3 linked regions of the Homo sapiens genome follow. The protein of the gene in region 3 purifies or fractionates together with the protein of the main gene of each other region. This does not show direct contact. Each region holds a gene or a part of one and is shown on either strand. Other genes may lie near its edges. The genes, in order: CEBPZ, ZNF100 and FGF3.

What was found.
Region 1: the proteins of FGF3 (region 3) and CEBPZ purify together in Homo sapiens (affinity purification with mass spectrometry; 2 studies listed by BioGRID and IntAct, with this or other methods). This does not show direct contact.
Region 2: the proteins of FGF3 (region 3) and ZNF100 purify together in Homo sapiens (affinity purification with mass spectrometry; 2 studies listed by BioGRID and IntAct, with this or other methods). This does not show direct contact.

The regions. Positions count from the first base shown.
Region 1 is NC_000002.12:37,221,474-37,225,123, reverse strand, and holds part of CEBPZ (CCAAT/enhancer-binding protein zeta), read left to right. Parts: intron 1-1,722; coding exon 1,723-1,954; intron 1,955-2,560; coding exon 2,561-2,744; intron 2,745-3,650. UniProt on the Homo sapiens protein: Stimulates transcription from the HSP70 promoter.
Region 2 is NC_000019.10:21,765,395-21,769,144, reverse strand, and holds the start of ZNF100 (zinc finger protein 100), read left to right. Parts: upstream 1-1,565; 5' UTR 1,566-1,715; coding exon 1,716-1,718; intron 1,719-3,358; coding exon 3,359-3,451; intron 3,452-3,750.
Region 3 is NC_000011.10:69,809,382-69,813,006, reverse strand, and holds the end of FGF3 (fibroblast growth factor 3 precursor), read left to right. Parts: intron 1-2,306; coding exon 2,307-2,702; 3' UTR 2,703-3,039; downstream 3,040-3,625. UniProt on the Homo sapiens protein: Plays an important role in the regulation of embryonic development, cell proliferation, and cell differentiation. Required for normal ear development.

The sequences.
Region 1 (3,650 bases), on a different chromosome or scaffold from region 3:
TTCCAAGGCTGAAAATGTAGAGGTTTCGGGATCTTGAGTTTTGTTTTTGTTAGTTTGTTTGTTTGTTTGTTTGTTTGTTTGTTTTGAAGGGGGGTGGTTTCATTATTTTGAACTTTTGATGGTCATAGGAATTTTTGATTTTTAGAAAGTGTTTGAAATCTATTAGAAAACATTTTTCTGTCTCTATTTAACATCATAGTCTAACATCTCTGAGGAAGGGTGGATTTTTAAGTTTTTGAAATTACTATTTGCCAAAAGCGCTCACAGATGGAGTTTCTTAACAGGCCTTTAGGCCTTCTTAAAGTGTTTGTTTGCTCTTGGTTTTATTAGGAATCCTTCACATTAAGAAAACCCCTAGTTAATTGAGGGATAAAAGAAATGACATGATTTGGTTTACAAAAATATTTATCAAAACATTAGGAAAATATTTCATGAAATGATAGAGACATGTCTCTAAATTCTTCTCAGATGTTTCTGTTGATGTGAGATGTAATTTATGCCTAATAATAAATTGCAAAATGGATGGAAATGTTGGAAAATTTAAATGTAAAGAGGGAAAATTTAAATGTAAAGAGAGAAAATTGAATAATCCAGAATATCCCAGAATATTACCAAAAGGGTGATATTTCCCAGAGTATTCAGAGCAATAGGAAAGTGCTTCACAAGCTTAAGTATTTTTCATTTCTAGTGTTAGTAGGAAAAAATTAATGGAAATGCTTAAAACAAAGGAAGTAATGATTCCAGGTGTTAATAGAGCTAATCTGGAGGATTGTGTTAATTCTGGGTGTCCTAATATCTGCAGGTCTAGACCGGTTGGGGACATGTGTAGGATTCAGCACCTAGGATAGAGAATTTTTAAAGTATCATGAGATCAAAGTAGAGCAGCCTACAGAAGACAGACATTAGGGAGAGACAAGCACATAATAGCTAAATAGGTTCAAGTATTTGGAAAACTGTCATGTAAAGGTATTAACTGCCAGGCACTGGGGTTACAACAGTGAATAACAGGCATAATCCCTATTTCATTGGACCTTTAGAGAAGAGGGAAAGGCAGGAAAATCAAGTTTGTGAAACTATGAAGAACACAAACATGGGACTGAGAGACTAATAGAAGAACCAATTTTGGATACTGTGGACATGCAGAGAGTTGGAGAGAAGCACTCTGGGCAGTGAAAATAGCGTGTATGAGAGGAATGTTACACAGCTAGTACATTGGACTAGAGATTCTCTGAAGTCCTTAGAATTTAATTTTCTGCTGTTCATCGATGGTCTTCACTAAAATCATGAAGAGGCGGCCTCTGGTCCCCCTGCTAGTAGGTAGTTATACAAGGACAAAAACCCAAATCTTCTAATGTTCTGCTTTCATGGGTCAGTTTTCACTATCTGGTTTTAGATTAGCTTTTCTGGTGGGGTTCTGTAAATACTGTTAGGGCTGTGCCCTGTTGATATAGAAAACAGAAAAACACTTGGAAAAGACAAGAAAACCACACACTCAAAAATGCCTATTCCTGTGTCTGTTGCTGTTGGTTTTTCCTGGTGCCATCATCATCCTTTTCTGGTCATTGACTTCCATCTTACCTCTTAGGGCAGGGTCTCTTGTTCTAAAATAAGCAGCAAAGTTATCCCTAACTAAGATGAGGTTAGTAGCTATTTCTAATATGTGACCATTGGTTGTGGAGATGGTTTTATACATAAATATTTGACCTTGGTTTTGTTTTGCAGGAAGATGTTGGATCCAGGGTTGATGACGTGTTCCAAGCAAGCTATGTTTCTTAACCTTGTCTACAAATCTCTGAAAGCTGACATTGTGTTGCGCCGGGTGAAGGCTTTTGTGAAGAGGTTACTTCAAGTTACTTGTCAACAGATGCCACCATTTATATGTGGAGCTTTATATCTTGTGTCTGAGATCCTTAAAGCAAAACCAGGTTTAAGAAGCCAACTAGATGATCATCCGGTATATTTTACAACTGCTTTTTAAATTGAGTGGGTGCTGAAATATATTGGTTTTTGTTTTGTTTTTCTTTGCTTCAAATGACAGTAACCTAGTTCTCTGGAGCATATGAGTGTGAGTTCTGGAATAGGACAAACCTAGATTTTAGTACCAGCTGTACAGTTTACTAGGTGGGCATGTTGCTCAACTCTTCTACTTGCAATAAACTGTACTATACTAGAAGCTACCATTATATGAGATTTGGAAGACTATAAAACTTAGTAGACCTCTTAAGTCTTCTTCCTTAACAATGAAATGGAAATAATAGTACCTACCTCATAGGGTTATTTACAAGTCAGAAATTTACTTGAGGGCTAATTGTTTTCAAGTATTAGAGTCCTTAAGGCTCAGGGGTTCTTAGCTCAAAACTTAACTGTGTTATGTTTAGAAATAAGGATGTAATCTCCTCTCTTGTTTAAATACCATTGATAGCCATCATTTTACTTTATTAGAACTTTCACGTTTCACCAGAGTTGCAATAAGTAAAACTCTGCATCACATAATGGAGCACAGACTTTATTGCAACTTCCAGTTGATTTATGTAGATTTATGAAACTATACTTTTGTTAGGAGTCTGATGATGAAGAAAATTTTATTGATGCAAATGATGATGAAGACATGGAAAAATTCACTGATGCAGACAAAGAAACAGAGATAGTGAAAAAACTTGAGACAGAGGAAACAGTTCCTGAAACTGATGTAGAAACCAAAAAACCAGAGGTTGCTTCCTGGGTGCACTTTGATAATTTGAAAGGTGAGTTTTTTTCATCTTTATTCTCTAGGGAGTTTGTTTCTCTTTGATTTTCATAGAAAATAGCATTCTACCATTTTATTTACTTATTTATTTATTTAGACAGAGTCTCACTCTGTTGCCCAGGCTGGAATGCAGAGGCGTGATCTCGGCTCACTGCAACCTCCGCCTCCCAGGTTCAAGTGATTCTCCTGCCTCAACCTCCCAAGTAGCTGGGATTACAGGCATGTGCCACCACACCTGGCTAATTTTTGTATTTTTAGTAGAGGTGGAGTTTCACCATGTTCGCCAGGCTGGTCTCAAACTCCTGACCTCAGGTGATCTGCCTGCCTCAGCCTCCCAAAGTGCTGGGATTACAGGCGTGAGCCACTGTACCTGGCCCACAGTTTCTTAAAGTAATGTTTTAGGGATAGAAAACTTTCTGTTCAAGATAGAAACGTTAAGTGGTTTTCTATACACACACCAAACTAAATTAAAAGTCTATTAATAGAATGTTAGAGTCAAAAAAAAATCTTAGAAATGCAGCCCCTTCATTTGAGGCTGTGAAGAAAACACCAGCCTTGAGGTTCGAGAAATGTGGTGCCAGACCCATTTCTTCAGCTTGCTTTGGGACTCACAGTCAAATTAATTCATCTACAAATTTCAGTTTGTGAAGTACAAAAGAGAAGTCTGATAGCTGCCAGAAAAGTTTGAGAAGAATCCATCAGTTCCCCTGAAGACTAAACTGAGAATAATCCTTTAGAAGGATGAAGAGCTTGTGTGTTGGAAGGTAGTCAGTTCCTAGTTTGTTCTGAAAAATCTTTGTTTTAAATTTTTTTAATCCTGAGTTTCTAAAAACATGAAGATAATGTCAGACCTGTTCCAAGTGAGAATTATTTCTGGGCATACTTTCATGACAAATATTTGAAG
Region 2 (3,750 bases), on a different chromosome or scaffold from region 3:
TTCTCTTTTTCTTTTAGAATGCTGCCATCTCCATGAATAATGCCCATGTTAGCCAGCTGGAAAATAAGATACCATGAAGAGGAGAAGCAAGGTGCCCCTGTTGACAGACCCAGGAGCAGAAGCTCACCCCCAGATGCACAGCTGTCTAGTCAAAAAGCAGGTGATGATACATGTCTGAAGGAGCTCAGCTGAGACCAGAAGAATGGCCCCACTCAGCTCGGCCTAAATGGCCAACCATTTCAATTATAAACTAATAAGTTTTGGATGATTTGTTATGCCTCAATAGCTAACTAATACATGCACCCAGTACAGATAAGTTGCCAGGATTCAGTGACAGGTTGACTAAGAGTTGGCTTCTAACAGTGGACACCCTCTAGGTACTGATTTCTTCCCCTGATTTAAAGTTCGATGTTTTGTAAGAGAATTTTGGGTAATGCAGAAATACCTGTAGACATGTATGCGTGTGATTGGTGCTTAGACTCACATAGTCCCCCACACCACAGGAGAAAACAGATAAACACAGCCTGATTGTTAGGGCCAAGACCATATAGCAAACTATGTTTGTTTTTAATCTATTTTCTCCATCTCTAAATACTGGAGTTCAAGTGTGTGGACAGAACTGAAGACATAGTTGTTTTTTCTCCTGTGGCCCCATCATCCTTTGTTCACTATCTGGTCTCTAAAAGAAAGGTGGGCAACAGGTGGCCAGCAGTTGTTTATTACCTGTGGCTATTTTATTCCTACTGCCCTCAGCTCTTTCTATGGGAACTATCTGGTCCACCCTAGGAACCAAAGAGAGATGTTTGTAGGGAGAGTCTCTTCTTTCACTCTCGCAGGAAAGAGATGTTCAGGCCCTTCACACCGCTGACATCAGAGCTGCACTTCAATGTGACAGCTATTGTCCATGTGTGGCTACTGGGTTCCCACAATGTGCCTGGTCTGAAATGCGATATGCTAGAAAGGTAAAATACAAAGTCAGCTTCAAAGATTTAGTTCCAAATATTTATATATTTTATCAATAATTACATATTTCTCACACATTAAAATGATAATATTTTGAATATAATGGGTGAATTACATTGTTAACAATCAGTTCAACTTGTTTCTTTTTAAAGTTTGGCTACTAGAAAATTTCAAATCCACATGTGGCTGACATTCATTTTAGATGATTTTCTCTTTTCTAAAATCTCAGGCTGCCTGCTCAAAGGGCCAGAAGCCAGGAAGGTCATAAAAGCTGAAATTTTAAAATAATTGTTATATTCTTTTCACTTGTGTATAGCTATATAATGTATTATTTATTTATACATATGACCTTATACACAAATTTAAAGGCAAATACTCTCTGGGATGGGCCTAGCTCAGCTGAGGGAGGAAGCCCTGTCAGAAGAGGGGGCAGTCTAGGCTGTCACTCTTTCTTCATTGAACCCGCATCTGATCACATCTTCTGTCACTCAAAGCCTGACAGGGCGGGGATTTAAGCATTATCCAACCAGGGACGCTGGGCTGGAAACCGTCCAATCAGGCATGCAGCTGGAGCGGACTGGACGGCTTCCGGGTTTGGCGGGGTCTTTGTCTCTCGCTGTAGCCGGAGCTCCAGGTTTTGCTCTCACTTCTCTGTGTCTTCTGCTCCTAGGGGCCTAGCCTGTGTGGCCCTCTGACCTGCAGATATTGGGAGATCCACAGCTAAGACGCCAGGACCCCCTAGAAGCCTAGAAATGGTGAGAGTGCCCGGTCCGACATCCCGAGAGACGGCGAAAGGGCTGGTTGGAACTGGTGGGAAGTAGCTGTGGCGGGACTCAGGCCTCTCCGCAGTCAGCTTCACAATCTGCGCCTTGCCCAGCTCGGCCTCCGTCCCCTTCGGCCATAAGATGGCGGCTGCGCTGACAGCCAGGACCCCAGGCGTCCTTTCTCTTCCCTGCGTAGTGACTGTGCCTTGGCCTGGAGCCCTCTCTTGGCAGCTCTGCACCCGCAGCGCCGCGTCTCTCTCAGATTGTGCAGGGACCACGGGAGGGTCGTCAGGGGAAAATCCTGACTCGGGGTGCGGGTTCATGAATGGGAAGATCTTTGGTCCGTGGCTTTCCCAGTTCCTCTTTTCTCCTATTAAAAATGTATGGGAGTCACTGCACAAATATTAACGATTTTTTTGTTTGTTTGAGACGGAGTCGCTCTGTCGCCCAGGCTAGGGTTTAGTGGCGCGATCTCCCCTCACTGCAACCTCCGCCTCCCGGGTTCTGGAGATTCTCCTGGCTCAGCCTCCCGAGTAACTGGGATTACAGGCGCCTGTCACTGGGCCGGCCTTATTTTTTTGTATTTTTAGTTGGGACGGGGTTTCACCTCGTTGGCCAGGCTGGTCTTGAACTCCTGACCTCGTGATCCGCCCGCCTTGGCCTCCTAAAGTGCTGGGATTACAGGCGTGAGCCACCGCGCCTGGCCTAAAGAATTTAATCAAACAGTGATTCAAGAATCATAGAGTATCCAGCTATGGTTTGTAGTTTGTTGTCTATGGGAGAGGCTTGAAGGAAAGTCATTTATAAAATGTATGATGAAGAAAACTAAATTTAGTAATTGGTTACAGTAACGTAGTTTCTTGATTTGTACAATACAGGTGAAGATTTCCTGGTTGTGTAATCAGAGGTTAATTAACAGTTTATAGTTGTTTAAGCCTACATTTTCTCTGAATGTAGTAATTAAAAAAAAAATGCACCTGAGTTAGATTTTTTTTTTTTTTAAGTAGGAACCCAGGGACTAGAGACACCTCAGTGGAATTGCCTGTCTCTTAATTATTTTCACACTCCACGGGGAACTGATTTTCTGCTGCATTTTTCACCTGTGTCCCAAGCAGGTTGTTAAGTCTAACCCCCGTCCCCCATTTCTCCAGCCTCACTCTGGCTTGCAGTAAGATACTAAATTTCCAATTTCTTCTGGCGTTCCCAAATGTCAACTTTTCCTTCCTAATTCACATTATCACCTATTTGTCCTTTAGTGTACTTGTTTATACCATATTTTAATTAATTGTTTTTGACAAAGCATTAAATGGCGCTTTTAAGAAGATGTGTTATCCGCTTGTAAATATTTCCCACGAAAAGGAAACAAAGACTAATCCTCTGACACTGTATTGTAGAAAATCTCTGTGTCTCTTTTCCTTTTACCTTCTCTAGGCACAGAGATTTATCAGAATGTTTTTGGGTCAAGGTTTTGATTTGGAAAAATCTATGGGGTGATGTGTCCTCAGCCACCCTTTAGTTTTTTCCTGGTCCTGGGTTTCAGTACTATCTGTGGATAAACCGAGATATCCGCCATGGTTCTGTCAGCTAAAGTGCCTAGTGAATGTCAGCTTCTGGTTTATTTTCTCCCGTAGGATGACCCGAGGTATGGAATGTGTCCTCTCAAGGGAGCAAGTGGATGCCCTGGGGCTGAGAGGAGTCTTCTGGTGCAGTCTTATTTTGAAAAGGTAACCCCTTGAGACATTAAAATTGTCTTCACCCAACCCAGCTTTCATTTCTTGGAGACACGTTGCTGGTCAGCCAATCAGATGCTGGTATTGAGGGGAAACACAAAAATAATTTCTGCTCCCTGGATCATCTAAGGGGGGCAGAAAAATAGTGAAATAAATATAAAGAAAAATATTGGAAAAAAAAGTGAAAATTTTGTTACCAAAAAGTATTCCAAAAGACAAACAACAACAGAACTGACCCCAGTGAGATGGTGTAAGAGCTTGCAAAGTAAAATGCACCTGGGGCAGTCACTGGG
Region 3 (3,625 bases):
AGTCTATGGCCCTGGCCCCTGAGCCAACACCTTCTGCCCTGGTCATCTTGGCCACCCCAGGTGCCCTACCACGTGTCAGCAATTGATCTACACTGCCCCCAATCTCCCACCTTGGGAGAGCCTGAGCCCCCTGCCACCTGAGGCTCACAGGCACCTGTCCTTCAGTGACCCACCCCTCAAGTGGCCCCCCAAAGAGAAAGCCTATTTCCTGGCCTCTCTGGCCCTGAGAGGACTCACCTGCTGCAGGATCGAGGGACCTGGGAGAAGCTTGGGTCCTGCCCTGAGCTTCTCACAGTCTGCCATGGGAGCCAGACACTAACATGGTGTACCCAGTGTGTGGGGTGGGGAAGTCGGCCCTGAGCCCACCCGCTCATTCCCAGATAGTCGCTGAGCCCCAGGCTATGTGGGGGTCAGGCACAGATCAGACACTGTTCTATCCCCTGTAATGTAGGGCCTGGCACCACCCCTGGGCCTCAGTTTCCCCATCTATAAACATGGAGACCGGTCTTGGATAGTAACATCCAGACTGTGGCCCAGGGGGCACTGGGCCTCCAAGAGGGCTGGAGAGCAGGGGGGCTTGGGGTTATGGGGAGAGGCAGCCCCTACCACCAGGTCAAGCCTTCCACCCTTCCCTGCTCTGGGCTTTCATGTCGCTGAAAAACAGGATGGGGTGCTTGAAGCATCTTGTTCCCTGAGGTCCTGCGAGGTCAGATGCTGCTCGGTCCAGTCTGGGAGCCTCTGGAGGCCATTTCCACTCTCTCTCTCTGCCACGGGACACCACACCCCAGATGGGGACAGACCATGAGGGCCTCCGACTCCTCCCTGCGGCCAGTCCCCAGGAGGAAAGAGAGATCCTGCTGTCTGCCTTGCACCTGCTGCTTCCACCTCCCACCACCCTTTCTGGTTTGGAGGGAGCAGCTCCTGTCAGTCATCCCCTGAGGGAGGTGGCCCTAGGCATTACCACTTGCCTGTAGCTGGGACTGAAGCCTAGTGGGTCTGCATAAGGCATACCCACCTCTTCCCTACGCCACAGACTAAGAAGACCCCATGAGGCAGCCCTTGAGGGAAACTCCCACGGCCAAGTCTTGGGGATGTTGGTGTAAGCTCCTTCAGTTCAGAGCTTCACTGTGCCTTTGAGAGGGCAGGGTCCCTTCTGCCCTTCCCCCACTGCACCCTGGGCCTGACAAGGGTCCCATTAATCTCTGATGACAAAGAGGTGTCCTCTCTGTCCTGCTTGTGGTGGGACACCCCAGCTTCTGCTCTCATCCTAAGAACAGCAGTATCTGTGGCACTGATTGATCATGTGCCTCATGCCAGGCCCCAGCCCCTGCTCTGTGTTGTAACCTCTTCAACCTGCAAGGCGAGATCCTCCAGCTTAAGAGAGTGTTGCTCAGGGGTCAATGACCCCAGCTGGGGCCCCTGAGCGCAGCGTTTAATGGAGAGTCTGGGCTCATCAAACCTGGCTGTGTCCCCTTCCCTTCCTGCTTTTTGTGTTCTTTCTTCTTTTTTCTTTTCTGCAATTTCTTTTTTTTTCTTTTCTTTTTTTTTTTTTTTTTGAGTCAGAGTTTTGCTCTTGTCGCCCAGACTGGAGTGCAGTGGCACAATCTCTGCTCACTGCAACCTCTGCCTCCCGGGTTCAAGTGATTCTCCTGCCTAAGCCTCCCAAGTAGCTGGGATTGTGGGCGCACGCCACCACACCCGGCTAATTTTTTTGTATTTTTAGTAGAGACGGGGTTTTGCCATGTTGCCCAGGCTGGTCTCGAACTCCTGACCTCAGGTGATTCACCTGCCTCGGCCTCCCAAACTGCTGGGATTACAGGCATGAGCCACCGTGCCCAGCCTCTGCAATTTCTTTAAAAGAGATCTGGGTGTTGTCATCTTCCTTTGTCCAAATGCCCAGTCCTTGCTGACCTCCACACTGCCAGCAGACTGCCAGGGCACCTGGGTTGGCCGGCCTGGTCTCTGCTCCACAGACAACCCTACACATCCCTTTGCTGTGTCAGCGCCCTCAGATGGGGGACAGAGGCTGGTGGAACCCAGAGAGCAGGAGCTGGGAGTTGTCTGGCACAGCTTTGAGTGAAGGTGACCTTTAGGCAGAAGGCCAAGTTCACCAGGCACACAGGGGAGGAAGGACATGCTGGGCAGAGGGCAGGGCCTAGGCAAAGGTGTGACTGGCTGAGAGTGCGCTGGGGTTTGGCACTGGACCGAACAGCCTCACAGGAGGGGAGGGAGGCATCAGGCAACCCTGGGCCCTGACGCTGCCACAGTCTCCCCGGGGCACTGACCATGATATCTCATCCCCGCAGGAGCACTACAGCGCCGAGTGCGAGTTTGTGGAGCGGATCCACGAGCTGGGCTATAATACGTATGCCTCCCGGCTGTACCGGACGGTGTCTAGTACGCCTGGGGCCCGCCGGCAGCCCAGCGCCGAGAGACTGTGGTACGTGTCTGTGAACGGCAAGGGCCGGCCCCGCAGGGGCTTCAAGACCCGCCGCACACAGAAGTCCTCCCTGTTCCTGCCCCGCGTGCTGGACCACAGGGACCACGAGATGGTGCGGCAGCTACAGAGTGGGCTGCCCAGACCCCCTGGTAAGGGGGTCCAGCCCCGACGGCGGCGGCAGAAGCAGAGCCCGGATAACCTGGAGCCCTCTCACGTTCAGGCTTCGAGACTGGGCTCCCAGCTGGAGGCCAGTGCGCACTAGCTGGGCCTGGTGGCCACCGCCAGAGCTCCTGGCGACATCTTGGCGTGGCAGCCTCTTGACTCTGACTCTCCTCCTTGAGCCCTTGCCCCTGCGTCCCGCGTCTGGGTTCTCAGCTATTTCCAGAGCCAGCTCAAATCAGGGTCCAGTGGGAACTGAAGAGGGCCCAAGTCGGAGCTCGGAGGGGGCTGCCTGCAATGCAGGGCATTTGTGGGTCTGTGTGGCAGGAAGCCGGCAGGGAAGGGCCTGAGTGCCAGCCCTGGCAGACTGAGGAGCCTCCCAGGAGCAGCGGGGCAGTGTGGGGCTTTGTGTCATCACAACATTAAAGTATTTTATTCTACTCTGTCGTTTGGTAGACCGTGATGCAGGCTGAGGAGCGCTTGCCGCCTTTACTGGAACGTGCTTGCTTCCAGCACAGCAGAATCCGCGCTGGCATCAGCCTGCGTCAGCTGCTGCTTTAAGAGGAAGACGGCATTCCCAGAAATCGGGCTAAAGGTGCATTTCAGTTCCCTGGTTTTAGAAAGTTACGTTTTTTTGGATGGTTGGAAACAAGCAAAGGCATGTTTGTGCATGTGTGTGCATCGTGTGTGTGTGCGTGGAGAGAAGGATCGTGTATTTCTGAAAGCGTGAGTGTGCATGTGGGTATGTGTGATCTTGTGTTAGTGGTACCTGTGTGAGGACATGTATGTGTGTGTGTGTTTCTGGGTGTGTCTGAATGTGTGATGTGTGTGTGTCTGTGTGTGTGTGTGTGTGTGTGTGTGTGTGTGTGTGTGTGGAGAGAGAGAGAGAGAGTTTACTTTCTTTGAAAACTCTAAAAAGCCTCTCCCTCTGGAAGCTGTGTGCTTCTCCAGGGACCCTTTAGAGCAACTGTGTCAGGTCAGGCAGCACAGAAACTTCCTTTATCCTTACAACCTGCTCTTGGGGCC